3 separate regions of the Homo sapiens genome follow, and all the other regions are reported to be linked to region 1. The links are microRNA targets in miRTarBase. Many come from high-throughput screens and were not tested one by one. Region 1 holds a microRNA gene; each other region holds the end of a gene's coding sequence.

Evidence for each region. Region 1 holds the annotated microRNA hsa-miR-3200-5p (AAUCUGAGAAGGCGCACAAGGU, at 1,296-1,317, opposite strand). A microRNA usually pairs through its seed, bases 2 to 8, with sites in the 3' UTR of a target mRNA and lowers its output. Matches are read on the target gene's strand: a 7mer-m8 pairs with bases 2 to 8, a 7mer-A1 pairs with bases 2 to 7 and ends in A, and an 8mer does both.
Region 2: miRTarBase lists ZNF45 as a target of hsa-miR-3200-5p. Seed matches in the 3' UTR shown: 7mer-m8 at 825-831.
Region 3: miRTarBase lists MFAP3 as a target of hsa-miR-3200-5p. Seed matches in the 3' UTR shown: 7mer-A1 at 3,759-3,765, 7mer-m8 at 2,642-2,648 and 7mer-A1 at 2,634-2,640.

Annotation. Positions count from the first base shown.
Region 1 is chr22:30,727,886-30,732,885 of GRCh38, reverse strand. MIR3200 (microRNA 3200) reads right to left here and starts at 1,329; the gene lies at 1,245-1,329. All of the region lies in intron 1 of OSBP2 (oxysterol binding protein 2), which reads right to left.
Region 2 is chr19:43,908,928-43,914,195 of GRCh38, reverse strand. It overlaps ZNF45 (zinc finger protein 45), which reads left to right. Exons shown (of 10, transcript NM_003425.4): 10 at 1-1,572. The coding sequence ends at 809. The region is part of intron 1 of ZNF45-AS1 (ZNF45 antisense RNA 1); the gene reads right to left. Among named protein-coding and RNA genes, the nearest start is that of ZNF45-AS1, 9.7 kb to the right of the region's middle.
Region 3 is chr5:154,053,336-154,058,603 of GRCh38, reverse strand. It overlaps MFAP3 (microfibril associated protein 3), which reads right to left. Exons shown (of 3, transcript NM_005927.5): 3 at 1,154-5,268. The coding sequence ends at 4,891. Among named protein-coding and RNA genes, the nearest start is that of MFAP3, 17 kb to the right of the region's middle.

The sequences.
Region 1 (5,000 bases):
TCACTGGAATCACAGGAACCCAGCTGCACTAGGGGGCAGCGAGCCTGACAAAACAATGGAATGGCCTACTGGCTTAGCGGGGACACCGAGGGAGAAATACCCCTCAGGTTTGAGCCTCTGTCCTCCAGGATGCCTTGAGCTGACAACTGATATCTGGTGCCATGTCCCCCACAGCTACAGCAGACAGGTCCAGGAGTGGCCCTGCTCACCATCACGCATGGTTGCCCTTTGCAAGGTGTGTGCTTCCCATCCTCACACACTTGGGATCAGCTGGGTTAGAGGATCTAGTCCTGGGGTAAGGGAGGAATGTGAAACAAAGATTCCACTGATCTGGACACTGCCACAACCACTTGGCCACCTACGGCTCCTCATGCCAGTGACCAACAAAGAGGGGAGTGACTCTACTGCCAGGGGAGTGACTCTACTGCCAGGGGAGTGACTCTACCGCCAGGGGTCACTGATCCTAATTGCCATGAGGAATTAGGTGAGTGGCCCATTTGGAAATGGGAGGAGAATGTCTGGAATAAAACCCAGAGGACTCCTTGGGATATCTCTTATTTTTATTTATTTATTTATTTTTTGAGACAGAGTTTCACTCTTGTTGCCCAGGCTGGAGTGCAATGGCGCTATCTCGGCTTTCTGCAACCTCCGCCTCCCAGGTTCAAGTGATTCTCCTGTCTCAGCCTCCCGAGTAGCTGGGACTATAGGCACCCGTCACCACGCCCAGCTAATTTTTGTATTTTTAGTAGAGATGGGGTTTCACCATGTTAGTGAGGCTGGTCTTGAACCCCTGACCTCAGGTGATCTTTCCACCTTGGCCTCCCAAAGTGCTGGGATTACAGGCATGAGCCACTGTGCCTAGCACCGGTATCTCTTAACATTTCCATGATTGGTAACGGCTGATAATGAGCAAGGCCAACAACACATGCAGACCACTCAGCGCAAACATCACAGACCAGCCAGAGTGCTGGCGGAGAGTGGAGAGGGTCTAGGGTGGGTAGTGCAGGAGGGAAATGATGAGTAACAATGAGCACACCAGGACCGGCCACAGCAGCAGCAGATGACCTTGTTTCACAACCTTCTTGCTTTATTCTTCCTGGTAACCCCAGTGGGCCAGCACCAGGAAATGGCTTCTGTCACTGATGGGATTTGTACCTTCCTGCTCAGGGAAGGAATGAGGATGTTTTTGTTCTCCAAGGAAAACGGAGATTCCCACATTGAAGTAGGAGAGCTGATATCATGGGAGGGCACGAGCAGACCTGAGTAGCGCAAGGTGTGGACTGTATTGGACACAAACCTTGTGCGCCTTCTCAGATTCCCTCGACCACCTCCTTCTTTGTCTCTCTCGATGATGCCTCATCCAGGTCACGCCGTACCTCCACTTCTGGGCTTGTATGAAATGCCACCGTGGAAAATAGGATATGAAAAGAACAGGTCAGATGAATCTCCCCCCACTCTTCCCTCCACGGATGGCTCTGAGGTGTATTTTCTTCTTGTGTAAGTTCTGGAAAAGTCCATGTGCCAGGCAAGCATGCTTGCTGAGCGACCCACCGTGTCTCTGTAGCTCGCTGTGAAGTCTCATCCAGCAAGGGAATGAGCTGGGTGGTCACTTTGATCTCTCCTCTGCCACTTGCCATTGCTCCTTCACTGCCCTGGGATTGCACCTCCCAAAGTGTCAGCTCTTTATTTTTCATTTATTTATTTATTTATTTGAGATGGAGTCTCACTCTGCCGCCCAGGCTGGAGTGCAGTGGCGCGATCTCGGCTCACTGCAACCTCCACCTCCTGGGTTCAAGCGATTCTCCTCCCTCAGCCTCCCGAGTAGCTGGGACTATAGGCGCCCGCCACCACGCCTGGCTAATTTTTTGCATCTTTAGTAAAGACAGGGTTTCACAGTGTTAGTCAGGATGGTCTCGATCTCCTGACCTCGTGATCCACCTGCCTCGGCCACCCAAAGTGCTGGGATTACAGGCGTGAGGCACCGCGCCCGGCCAGCATTAGCTCTTTAATCCCTGCCTTGGGCTATGTTTTCCAGAAGCCCTTCCCCAAAAATGTCCATGGGAAAAAAAAAAAAAATTATATATATATATATATATATATATATATATATAGAGAGAGAGAGAGAGAGAGAGAGAGAGAGAGAGAGAGAGAGAGAGAGAGAGAGAGAGACAGGGCAGCGAATCTGAATCCAGATGCACAGAAAGACCAAAAGCTACCACTCTGGAGCAAAGTACTTAGTCTTATATGGAACTTCCATTCAATGCAAGCTCAAGGTGACCCTGATTCACTGTGAAATTCCCATCCAACCTTCTGCATTCTAATTCAGCAAGCACTTCCTGTGGGCTACTATATAAAGGAACTGTGCTAGAAACTGGGGAGGGAGTAGATACAAAAATAAATACGACACATCTTTCTGGCCTCAATGGTCTAGCTTGGGAAGGACACAGGCCTGTAAATGACAAGCCACTGTTTGTTAACAATAAGTGGGGGGAAATAAATTCAAAATAAGGGAGGTGCTCACTCCATGAAAATTCACTAGCTACATCCTCGTAATTGACCAGTTTTTCTGCATGTATGTTATACTTTTATACTTTATAAAAATTGGCTTTAAAAGCAAACTCCAGGCTGGGTGCGGTGGCTCGCGCCTGTAATCCCAGGACTTCGGGAGGCCGAGGTCGTCAAATCACTTGAAGTCAGGAGTTTGAGACTAGCCTGGGAAACATGGTGAAATCCCGTCTCTACTAAAAATACAAAAATTAGTCAGGCATGGTGGCATGCGCCTGTAGTCCCAGCTACTTGGAAGGCTGAGACACGAGAATCGCTTGAACCTGGGAGGCAGAGGTTGCAGTGAGCCGAGCGAGATTGTGCCACTGCACTCCAGCCTGGGTGACAGAGGGAGACTCCATCTCAAAAAAAAACCCCAAAAAACAAAAAAACCCAGAAATTTATTATCTCACACTTCTGGAGGCTAGAAACCCATAATCAACGTGTTGAAGTCCACAAGAGCTGAAGTCCACGAGAGCCTGGCTAATTTTTGTATTTTTAGTAGAGACAGGGTTTCACTATGTGTGCCAGGCTGGTCTCAAACTCCTGACCTTGTGATCCACCTGCCTCGGCCTCTCAAAGTACTGGGATTACAGGCATTAGCCACCATGACCAGCTGATTTCCTACCTTTTTAAGGCTATCTCCCTGTTGTGTATACATATATACACACACATATATACACACACATATATATATATATTTTGAGATAGAATCTCTCTCTGTCACCCAGGCTGGAGTGCAATGGCACAATCTTGGCTCACAGCAATCTCTGCCTCCTGGGTTCAAACGATTCTCCTGCCTCAGCCTCCCAAGTAACTGGGATTATAGGCACCCACCAATATGCCCAGCTAATGTTTGTATTTTTAGTAGAGACGGGGTTTCATTACGATGGCCAGGCTGGTCAGAAGCTCCTGACCCCAGGTGATCCTCCCACCTTGGCCTCCCAAAGTGCTGGGTTTACAGGCGTGAGCCACCGTGCCCAGCCAATAATTTTAGATCCATCCATCCATCGATGGACATTTAGGTGGGTACTGTGAATAATGCTGCAATGAACATGGCAGTGCTAGTATCTTTGAGATCCTAATTTCAGTTCTTTTGGATAAATGTCCAAAAGTAGGATTCCTGGATCATATGGTAGTTCTATTTTTAATTTTTTGGGGAACCTTTATACTAGGAAATGAACCAATTTAAAATGGGTAAAAAACTTGAGTAGGCACTTCACAAAGGAAGATACCCAAATGGCTGATAAACATATGAAAAAGCACTCAACCTCGTCAGTTATCAGTGAATGCATATGTGTCTCATGATTAAGCAATTTTACTCCTGTGGATTTCGGCATTAGTAATGTGTACATATGCTTACCAGAAGGCAGGTACCAAAATGTTCACAACATTATTCCTAAAAGCCAAAATCTGAAAACAACTTGCAGGTCCATACACACTAGAATGGACAGACAAATGGTGGTTTATCCATTTTGTGGTTCATCCAAATGGGGGAATATAATACAGCAATTAAAACAAATGAGTTAGTTACATATAAGAACCTGGAAGAGGCAGTGGCTCACACCTATAATCCCAACACTTTGGGAGACCATGGCAGGAGGATTGCTTGAAGTTAGATGTTCGAGACCAGCCTGGGTAACAAAGCAAAACCTGTCTCTATAAAAATAAGAAAAAGTTAGCCAGGCATGTTGACATGTGCCTGTAGACCCAGCTACTTGGGAGTCTAAGGCAGAAGGATCCTTTGAGCCCAGGAGTTTGAGGCTACAGTAAGCTATGATTGTACCACTGTACTCTAGCCTAGGTAACACAGCTAGACCCTGTCTCTACAAAAACAAAAAATGAACAAACAAAAAAACCTGGAAAAAATCTCACAAGTATAATGTTGAGCAAAAACAGCCGTGCACTACTGCACCCAGCTAATTTTTGTATTTTTTTTTTTTTTTTGAGACGGAGTCTTGCTCTGTTGCCCAGGCTGGAGTGCAGTGGCGCGATCTTGGCTCACTGCAAGCTCCACCTCCCAGGTTCACGCCATTCTCCTACCTCAGCCTCCCGAGTGCTGGGACCACAGGCACCCACCACCACATCTGGCTAATTTTTTGTATTTTTAGTAGAGATGGGGTTTCACTGTGTTAGCCAGGATGGTCTCTATCTCCTGACCTCGTGATCCGCCCGCCTCAGCCTCCCAAAGTGCTGGGATTACAGGCATGAGCCACCGTGCCCGGCCCTTTATTTTTCTTTGAGACAGTCTCTCTCTGTCACCAGGTTGAAGTGCAGTGGTGTGATCTCGGCTCATGGCAACCTCACCTCCCGGGTTCAAGCAATTTTCCTGCCTCAGCCTCCCGAGTAGCTAGGACTACAGACACGCACCACCACACCCAGCTAATTTTTGTATTTTTAGTAGAGACAGGGTTTCACCATGTTGGCCAGGATGGTCTTGATCTCTTGACCTTGTG
Region 2 (5,268 bases), not on the chromosome of region 1:
AACCGTATCAGTGTGATGCATGTGGTAAGGGCTTCAGTCGTAGCTCAGATTTTAACATTCATTTTAGAGTCCATACAGGGGAAAAACCCTATAAATGTGAGGAGTGTGGCAAGGGCTTCAGCCAGGCCTCAAATCTTCTGGCCCATCAAAGAGGCCACACTGGAGAGAAACCCTACAAATGTGGTACATGTGGGAAGGGCTTCAGTCGGAGCTCAGATCTTAATGTACACTGTAGAATCCACACAGGAGAGAAACCCTATAAATGCGAGAGGTGTGGTAAGGCCTTCAGTCAGTTCTCCAGCCTTCAGGTGCATCAGAGAGTTCACACTGGAGAGAAACCATATCAGTGTGCAGAGTGTGGGAAGGGCTTCAGTGTAGGTTCACAGCTTCAAGCCCATCAGAGGTGCCACACTGGAGAGAAACCCTATCAATGTGAGGAGTGTGGGAAGGGCTTCTGTCGGGCCTCCAATTTTCTGGCACATCGTGGAGTCCACACAGGAGAAAAACCATACCGATGTGATGTGTGTGGTAAGCGCTTCAGACAGAGATCCTACCTTCAAGCCCACCAGAGGGTCCACACAGGAGAGAGACCATACAAATGTGAGGAATGTGGGAAAGTCTTCAGCTGGAGCTCATACCTTCAAGCCCATCAAAGAGTTCACACCGGAGAAAAACCATACAAATGTGAGGAGTGTGGGAAGGGCTTCAGTTGGAGCTCAAGTCTTATCATTCATCAGCGAGTCCATGCTGATGATGAGGGTGACAAGGACTTTCCTTCATCAGAGGATTCACACAGGAAAACTCGATAAAATATGTTTTACTATCTCAGATGGGTGCTGAAATATTTTAATAATCAGAGCTATCATAGACAAAACATTTGTTTTATAGAGTCAGTAGTTCAGCCAAGTGATTGGGAGACCACACAGCAGAGAAGCCTCACAAGAGTGGAGACATATGGACTGCATTCAGAACATTGACCATTAGCTGATACATGCAGACAAGAGGATCAGGAAGGATGAGTCTGATCTGGAGTAAATCAGAAGTACTAAGATAGAAATGCTGAATTCTGTTCCACTAGAATATAAGATCCAAGAGGGCAGGGACTTTGTTGACTGCCAAATCTACTCTGCCTTTTCAGTGCCTAATACGTTGTAATTTTTCAGTAGTATTTGAAATTACTGTCATATTTGAAATTCAGTAATATTTGACATTTTTATTTATCTCTAGAAGTTTCTCTAAAATTGTACTCAGAAGAATTCTGCAAGGCTTGGAGGATATATAAGTTAGTCATATGGCCTGATTTTCCCATTTTTGCAGATCTCGTGGACAAGTGTTTATCAAACTGAAGGTTGCAGCTTGTTAGTGGGTTCAGAAATCAGTTTCTGGCTAGCAACTAGAAGTTTTGTATGTTAACAGTACTTTATTGAGGTGTAATCTGCATGCAGTAACATGCACAAGTCTCAAGTTCATGGCTTTCTGAATTTTGACAAATGTAATCATCACCAAGATCAATGTATACAATATGTCTATTAAACCAAAAAGTTTTCTTGTGCCCATTTCCAGTCAATCCCACCTCCAGTGCCAAGTATTATGATTTCTATACCATAAATTAATTAGGTCTGTTCCTGAGCTTCCTATGGATTTAGTATGTACTCTTATATCTGGATTCTTATGATCAAATGTATGATCATCTCAGTAGATTCAGAGAAAACATTTGACAAAATTTAGCATCCACTCATGATGAAAAAATTCTTCAATGAGATAAAAGGCATCCATGAAAATCATATAAGCTAACATTCTTTTTTTAATTAGGGAATAATTTATATACAGTGAAACTGACTCTATCATGCATTTTGGCAAGTGCTGTTATGTGAACACCACCATCACAATCAAGATAGTCTATAGTTCTAGTACCCCCTGCCCTGAAACTTGCTTGTTCTGTTTAGTCAGCTCCTCTCCCCACCACCAGCCCTTGTCAACTGACTCATTTTCTGTCTGTATAGTTTATATCATTTCCAGAATGTCATATAAATGGAATTCTAGAGTATGTTTCCTTTGGAGTCGCACCTTTCACTTAATGCTTCTGAGACTCATCTGTCTTGTTGCATATATCAGTACAGAAGTCATTTCTTTTATTGCTGAGTAGTAGTCTGTCATATGGATGTTCCACAGTTTGTTTATCCATTTATCACTGGTGGGATACTTGGGTTTTCAGTTTTCAGTGATTATGAAGAAAGCTGCTGTCAACATTTGCAAACAGTTTTGTGTGTCCACATTGTCTTAGTAAATATTAGGAGTGGAATTGCTGGGTTGTATGGTAACAGTATACTTATCTATGAAAAACTGACAGACTTTTCTAAAATAACTGTACCATTTTACATTCCCACCACCAGTGTATGAAAGTCCCAGTTCCTTAACTTCACTGACAATTGGTATGTCAGGGTTTGGTTTCATTTTTATTTTGTTGTTAGGATTTCAAAGGGTTATAGCGGGATTTCATTTTGGTTTTAATTTACACTTCCCTAATGGCCATTGAGCATCTCCACTGCTCGTTTGCTATCCATTTGCCTATTTTCTTTTGTGAACTATGTTCAAATCTTTTGTCCATTTTTTTAAAACCTGGATTGTTTCTTATTGATTTTTGAGAGTTCTTTATATGTTCTGGATAGATATCTTTGTCAGTTATGTGTTTTGCAAATATTGTATACCATTATGTGGCTTGTGTTTTTATTCCATTAACAGTATTTTTCACACAAGAAATTTTTTTTAATGAAGTTCCTTTTTTGTCTTTGATGGATTGTGCTTTTGGTTTCAAATATAAGAACTCTGCCTAATCCAAGGTCACAAAGATTTTCTCCCACTTTTTTATCACAAATTTTATGTTTTCAGGCTTTATATTTAGGTCTATGATATATTTGAGTTAGTATTTATATAAGATGTGAATCTTTATATAAGGGAGGTCCACTATTTGCATATGAGAATCCAATTCTTTCAGTATTGCCATGGCACCTTTGTGAATCCATTAACCATACATGTATGGGTCTTTTTCTGGCCTCAGTGCAGTTTCATTGATTTATGTGTCTATCATTTTGCCAAATATTGCACATCTTGACTTTTGTATCTGTATATAATGTCTTGAAACCAGATACTGTGAGTCTTCCAACTCATTATTTTATTTTGGCTATCAAATTTGTCTTGCCATAATTTCCAGAATCAGCTTTGTCATCTGTAAAAATAATTTGCTGGGATTTTTATTGAGATTGCAATGAATATATAGATGAGTTTGGGGACAACTGACATTTTAGCAATACTGAGAATGTTCTAAACCATACACACAGTATCTGCCTATTTAGGACTCCCTTATTACATCAGTAATTTGTAGTTTTAACATATAGATTCTGCACACACTTTATTAGATTTATACCTACATATTCCTTTTTTAGGGTTCTAAATTAGTACTGTTTTTCAAATTTCAATTTCCAATTGTTCTTTTTCAATATAGTTGATTGTTTTATGTTGACCTTGTGTCCTATGATCTTGCTAAACTTAGTATTGGTTTAAGTAGCTGTTCTATTGATTGCTTGGGATTTTCTGTGTAGACAATCTTGTCATCTGCAAAAAAAAAAAAAAATGTTTTTCCCTCCCAATCTATATGCCTATTACAGCACCTCTACTATGATGTGGGGAAACTCCTTCCAAGGTTAGGTTTGAATGTCGAAACTCCTTCCAAGGTTAGGTTTGTATGTCAAACTCCTGACGGTAGTCCTTTGGAATGATCAAAGAAAGATGATTACGGGGTGGGAGGGCTGTCCAAGAAAAGATCCAAAACAGAATAGTCAATGTTCAGGCAGTTTATAAAAGGGGATGTCCTGCCAGCACACAGTTTAAAAGAGGTGGTGGAGGGCATATGCACTTGTGGAGCAGTAAGTGAACCTCATCAGGATTGTGAGGGAGACTGGACATAGGCAAGAGATGCTTATAGGTGGCTTGCACTAAGTCAAACACCAAGTTTCCTCCAGTCTTCACAATTCACCCCTGATGTTTGGGTTAGCACAGCAAACTCCTAGGTTTCCTATAAATAAACTTGCATTTGAGAGAGGCCAAATATGCAAAGTTGACCCAATAAAATTAGGCCAGCAATTATAATAGCTCCCTGAAAGATAATGTGGTGCCAGATAATGTTAATCCAGGCAGAAGGAAGCAGTCAGGAGAAGAAATAGGGATTCAGAAACTCTTGCCACATTTTAGTAACTTAGTAACTTCGTTGACTGTTTTGGTTTGTTATCTACTGAACGATTCTGGAGAGCTTTCCTGTTTTTACTGACCTTCACACAGCCAGAGGTTCCCTTCAGAGGGCCACCTTGAGATGCCACTAGTTAGTCTAATGCAGTATTTTATCAACTACCATGACAGCTACAGAGCTTTATCTCATTAAGGGCTTCTAAATCTTGGGCTGTTTGGTACATATGGTCTGCCAGGAATTGTGACGTTGTTTGGCTGGCAGCTCTAAGAATGAAGTCTGCTACAGAACTGAAAAGATCTAGACTTATGCCTGTTATACCAAAGATTGTGATGAGGCCCAATTTATAATATACAAAAAGGTGGCCTGGTATCCCCTTTTATGGGAAGGGCATTCACCAGTGCATACGTGTGAGGCCCTTGTACTTTCAATGGCTTTATATAATATCAATCGTTGACAGAGGGCAGGAAAGGTGGGACTGTGAAGGAAAAATTCAGAGGAAGAACCTGATGAGGTTGAGGGTGCCTGGGGAAGTAAAGGAGCTGGAGGGTGACCAGAGAGGATGGCGACTGGTTAGTAGTATGGATATCACATACCTCCAAGAGTGTGGAAATCAGTTGTACGAGTGGTTACCCAGGTTGGGACGCCTGCTGGCAGGCCCAGCATTGTTGGAGTTTTATCTCTTGGATGACATGTTCTGTTACTGTTTCACATGTATTATCTGGCAAGTTGAAGAAAGTAGGATGTGGTGTCATGATGAAGGAATAGTGCAGAGTGAAGCATGGATTGTTGGACAATGGGACTGGCGCTGATGTGGTTGTGGAGGTCACTGTGGAGACCACAGAGGGGTAGTTATCATGTCCAGGTCCCAACTGTTAAGCATGAAGGGAAGTATAGTTTTAAAGGCTTTTGTGTAGGGGTCATTTCACCCAAAGGATGAAATTAAGTGGTGTGGCACCAATGGGTGTAAGTTGGCTAGTTTGTAGGGCATTGGCTTACACCAAAAGGGCATCACATGAGGAGCCAAT
Region 3 (5,268 bases), not on the chromosome of region 1:
TTCTCAGAGGTGTGGAGGAATTTTTAGTTGACCACAAATGCAAATATAGTCATCAGTTGGACAAGGCTACTAACAAAGCTGACGCCGGCTCATGACTAGCCCCTTACAGTGTGGTAGATCAGAGCTATCAGTGTTTGCTTATCGGTTGCTATATTTAATCCTTGTGTTAATTCTGTGAGGTAGGCATTATCAATTCTATTTTACTGAAGCCGAGAAAGGCTGAAGCCCTTGTCCATGGTTACAAGGCTAGGGGTGAAATCAGGATTTAAAGTCCAGCAATCTTTTGCCATAGGGATATAAAGGCTAGATTTTCATTCTAAGGAGTCTGTGGCATTTAAGTAATGAGTCACACCTCCCATCTGTTGCCTTTGCGTTCTCCTAACACCTTGTGCTTTTCCATGCCTGTTAACCATCACCACTCTTCACCCTGATGGGACTGCAGACTTTTGCTTCTACCAGAGCTAAACCTCCTGCCCGCCAAATCTCACCATAAACTACACACTATAATCACAAGCTCTTTAAAAATGTACCAAATCTTCTCATCTCTTTTTCTCAAGCTCTTGCCTTTGCCAAAAATGCTTTACTTCAGAAGAGTAAACTGCTGTATTTGGGCCCAGGGAGGATAGTCTGGTATCTGCAGGCCCGTTGTGGGCAGGATACCCATCTCAGTGTAGCTCATAGCACTGAAAACATACACAGTGCTTAGGTGTAAATATTTGTAAAGTTAAAGTGGATTCCAGCCACACTAGAATCCAAGTTGAATTCAAATTTACTCCTATGCTGGGGGCTGTGGCTCATGATTGTAATCCCAGCATTTCGGGAGGTCCAGGCAGGAGGATTACTTGAGATCAGGAGATAGAAACCAGTCTGGGCAACATAACGAGACCCATCTCTACACACACACACACACATAAAATTAGCCACGTGCGTTAGCGTGCACCTATAATCCTAGCTACTCAGGAGGCTGAGGCAGAACTGCTGAGCCCAGGTTGAGACTGCAGTGAGCCATGATCATGCCATCATACTCTGGCCTGGGCGACAGAGTGAGACTACCCTCTCCCCAAAAAATTACCCATTTAAAATCATTAACGTCAAGTTCCATCAAACATACAAATTTCGTCAAACATACAAATGAAACATACACTATAGAAAATTTCAAATAGACTATATACTCCATTGAACGTTTAATAAATTATATTCAAGTATGACTTTCTTTAAAAAAGAGACAAAATTATAATGCAAGTATTTATTAAAATGCTGACAATTTAAACATCCTCTGAATTATATGAAATACTTATTTACTTTTGTGAAATGCGTTAGTGAAAATCTAGGAGTTTCTATGTAAGGCTGAGCATTTTCAACATTCCTGGCCTAGATGAGAAAAGAATGCATTCTCTTACTGGTACTCAGGAAATATTTATACAATACACTTGGGTTCTACTTGCTGGTGTGTGGAGACTAGGCTAGCACCCATGACTGGCTGGGCTCTAGAAAACAAGCATGCAGTGCTCCTGTGCCATCTGGGACCCAAGAGACAAAAGTCTGATCTAGGGTGAAGCTACATGCAGAGGGTGAAGAGGACTATACCAACAGCCTCACTTGTCTGGAGGAGCAAAAGGAAAGCCGTGCACAGATATTGCTTTGACCTTAAAATATTTGTTAAGTGAGGCAAGAAAGAAGCCAGGAGTCTTCTCACAACCGTTCCAGGTCAGCAATTTCTAAGATATTTCTATCAAGGTAATTGGTAGAAAATATAAATGCGTGCTGGCCCTGACTCAAGAATTAAACCATCGTAACATATACATACACAATTTGGAGGACAGGCAGTTATCAAACAGTCTATAAACTCAAGTGGGGCATCAGCTCAATTAATACCTGTCTATCTGGCTTCAGCTGGTAAGGAATCATAAAGATGTTCAAATTTTGATTTTTGGTGAATGTATTTCACAAAGCTACCATTTCATAAGGACAATAAGGTTCACTATATCACAATACACGACAAAATTTACAAATGAGATGACAGCTATTTTAAATACATTTTGTAAAGGCATTTTCCACTAACTATAAAATCCAGTGAGACAAAAAGATAATTACACTATAGTTACCATCAAGACTTTTAGACTGTAGTTGAAGTTCAAAAGGTTGATTTAAAAAAAAGATAACATGAGGCTTAATTATATATGAAGAGTATTTGATTAGATACAGAAAACATTAGTAAGTGTGGTTTTCTTCCTCTTGAAAACTAGCTTTACGAAGTAATACCAACTCCAATTAAATTTTGACCTACTTTAATTCCTCATCAATGGCACCATAAGCTGGTACACTCAAAGTAAACCAGTTACTTTGGCCACCAAATTAGGCCACCTCTGTTTCTAAAATAACTAGGATACAACGGAGTAGCATGCATTTAGTTACTATACAGTATCGTGCAAACTTACAGACTTTAAAAACATTTCCTCCATTTTTCCAAAGTTCTGTTTCTTAGGACTTTGATTTTAAACATGTCTACCTTAGGGTTCTAAATAATAATGTCTCCTATGAGAACATGTGGGGTAAAACCATTCTCTAATTTGACAAGCTATATTCTAAAAGATTACTGCAAACCTGCTATGTTAGGACAGGGTTGAAAGTACTATCTGAAATCTGAGGGATGTTTAGAGGACTGACCCCCAGACAAGGGATTTAAAATGTTTTTTGGCCAGGCACAGTGGCTCATGCCTGTAATCTCAACACTTTGGGAGGTAAGGCAGGAGGATCATTTGAAGCCACAAGTACAAGGTCAGCCTGGGCAACAAAGTGAGACCCCCATCTCTACAAAAAATAAAAAAAAATTAGCCAGGAAAGGTGGTGCACACCTGTAGTCCTAGCTGCTTGGGAGGCTGAAGCAGGACGATCGCTTGACCCCAGGAGTTGGAGGCTGCAGTGAGCTATGATCTTGCCACTGCACTCCAGTCTCAGTGGACAGAAAAAAAATTTAATTTTTCCAGAGAAAAGGGAAGGGAAAAAGTGTTCCATAATCTAGGATATGTTCAAGAGCCTTTGCTCTTATAGTCAAATATATAAAAACAATTTTCCTTAAAGAAATACCAGTCTATGAGCCAAGGCAAGCTTTGGCTAAATGATTGGTTAGCTTTTATTTGGCTCTAGAGGTTTCCATGGAAACAGCCTGAGAGACAGAAAAGGCAGCATTATCATCTTTATCCATGATGCCATCTGATAAAACTGCACATTGATTCATTCATGCTATTCAGAGCAGATGTATTACTTCTGATAAGCCTGGACAAAGGGAGGCATGAGTTTTATCCCGTCACGCTTTGAATTTCCTGTCTTCCCCTGTTTGAAACCTTAAATTAAAATCCTGATAAAACCTCCTCTGAACATTTCCCTCAGGAGCCTCTAGCTGAAGTAATGCTTCAATAATCAGAAGTCATATGAAGAAACGTGAAGCCCCAAATGGAGCTCCACTGCCAAGTTCTTAAAATTATATGGCACCACGCTTCCTGTAGCTGAAGAAATTGTTCTGAAGAGTATTTACAATTCCATTATATCAGATCTCAGCCAGGCAAGAAATGTCATCATAAGTGTTTATTATATACAGTTGAAGCAGGTGGCATCATCCATCATTTTTCTTCCTCTTGATGTCTAGATCAGTTGTGTGTGTATTTTAATATAGTAACACACCCTCACAATTATCTAATCTTATTTCAGGTTAGTGCTTCTTGGAAAGGCTACAAAAGCAGCCATAGCTCAGAATTATGTATCTGAAGTAAACAAAAATAAAAACCTCAACAACAAAATATTAACCAAACAAACAAGATAAAGACGCATGCAACCTATAGCACCATACCTAAGACCACAAAGGGCAGGAGGGTTGACAGAGGTCTTAAGAGGAATCCAGTTTTGGGTTTTCTCCTAGGATGAGATCCCAAATATAGAACCTATTTGTAGAGTCCAATACTTTTAAAAAGGGAAAGCCTGAGAAATTCTGTTAACAGAAATATGAAAATCCATGATTTTCCAGAAGACAGATGATTTGACACTGTTCTTATTCTAAAAGCATCAAAGACGTTATACCTTAGAAATAAACTGCTCACTTTGGAAGATCAGTTAGGCAATCCCTGCCAACCTCAATGAACTAAAATGATATCTCAGTAAGTTAAAAATATGATACACCCCCACCAAGGACCAATTTACTCATGGAAAGTAGTTTACAGAGCAGTTAGCTCTCTGACATCTGTATAACCCTACAGACATGTGCTACATTGAAAAGATTCAATCTTGCACATATCATTATATGCTCCACATGGCAAAACATCTGAAAAACACTCAGATGTTTTTCAAAAACCTCTGTGCATTATGACATTGGTGTGGAAATTTAGATCTCAGCTTAATCCTTTCCAAAAGAAGCGAGTAAAAGTCCCGGGAAAGGTTTACTTAGAGATGAGTGAAGATTCTGGTAATTTAAAGGTGATGGGTTAAGAAGCTATAGAGCTAGAAACAACTTCAGATCTCACCTAATCCCTCATCTTATTGACGGAAAAACTGAAGTCCCAAGATAAGTATCAGATCCAACCAATGGAAGAACTGTGACCAGAAGAGAAACCATGGGACTCTTAGTTCAGTGCTTTTCCCCATCATGTTTATCTGGGGCTCCTTTAAATCTTAGCATGCATAATTTAATAAAGCTCTAAGGAAAATGACTGAAAAGTATCAGAGAGGAAAAATGCTGCCTTCTAATGAAGACTTTGGCAATTCACGTTCTGATGTGCTTAATATTAACAAACGGAAAACCCCAGTCATCTTTTGGCAAAAATGTTACTTCTTCTAAGAAACAGGTTCCTTTTCTGAGAGCGAGCTGATTTTGTAGGTACTGGGTTACAGCATTGTAGGTTACAGCTGACAGTTTTCATATGCCCCATCTTTGTAGTTACAGTTAGATTCTGCAGATCCTATATCATCAGGTGGACTGAAATGACTGCTGCCTTGAGACTCTGTATCAATACTTTTGGTTTCTGACTGAAGGTGGACAGAAACCTGAACTGCTATTTCCTGGCCTTGTTCATTCAGAGAGCCATCATCTGAATCTCCTCCTGGTGAATTACTCCGTCCCATCTCTGGGTTAATGACATAGATGCCACCTTGAGCATTCAAGGCAGGTCTCTCTTTAATTCTTTCACCCAGGTCATCAGGGTCGTCCACTCGCACAGCCTCAAACATCTCCTCAACAAAGGCTCGACAGTTTAGAATAAGAGGTGGAAGAGGGACACT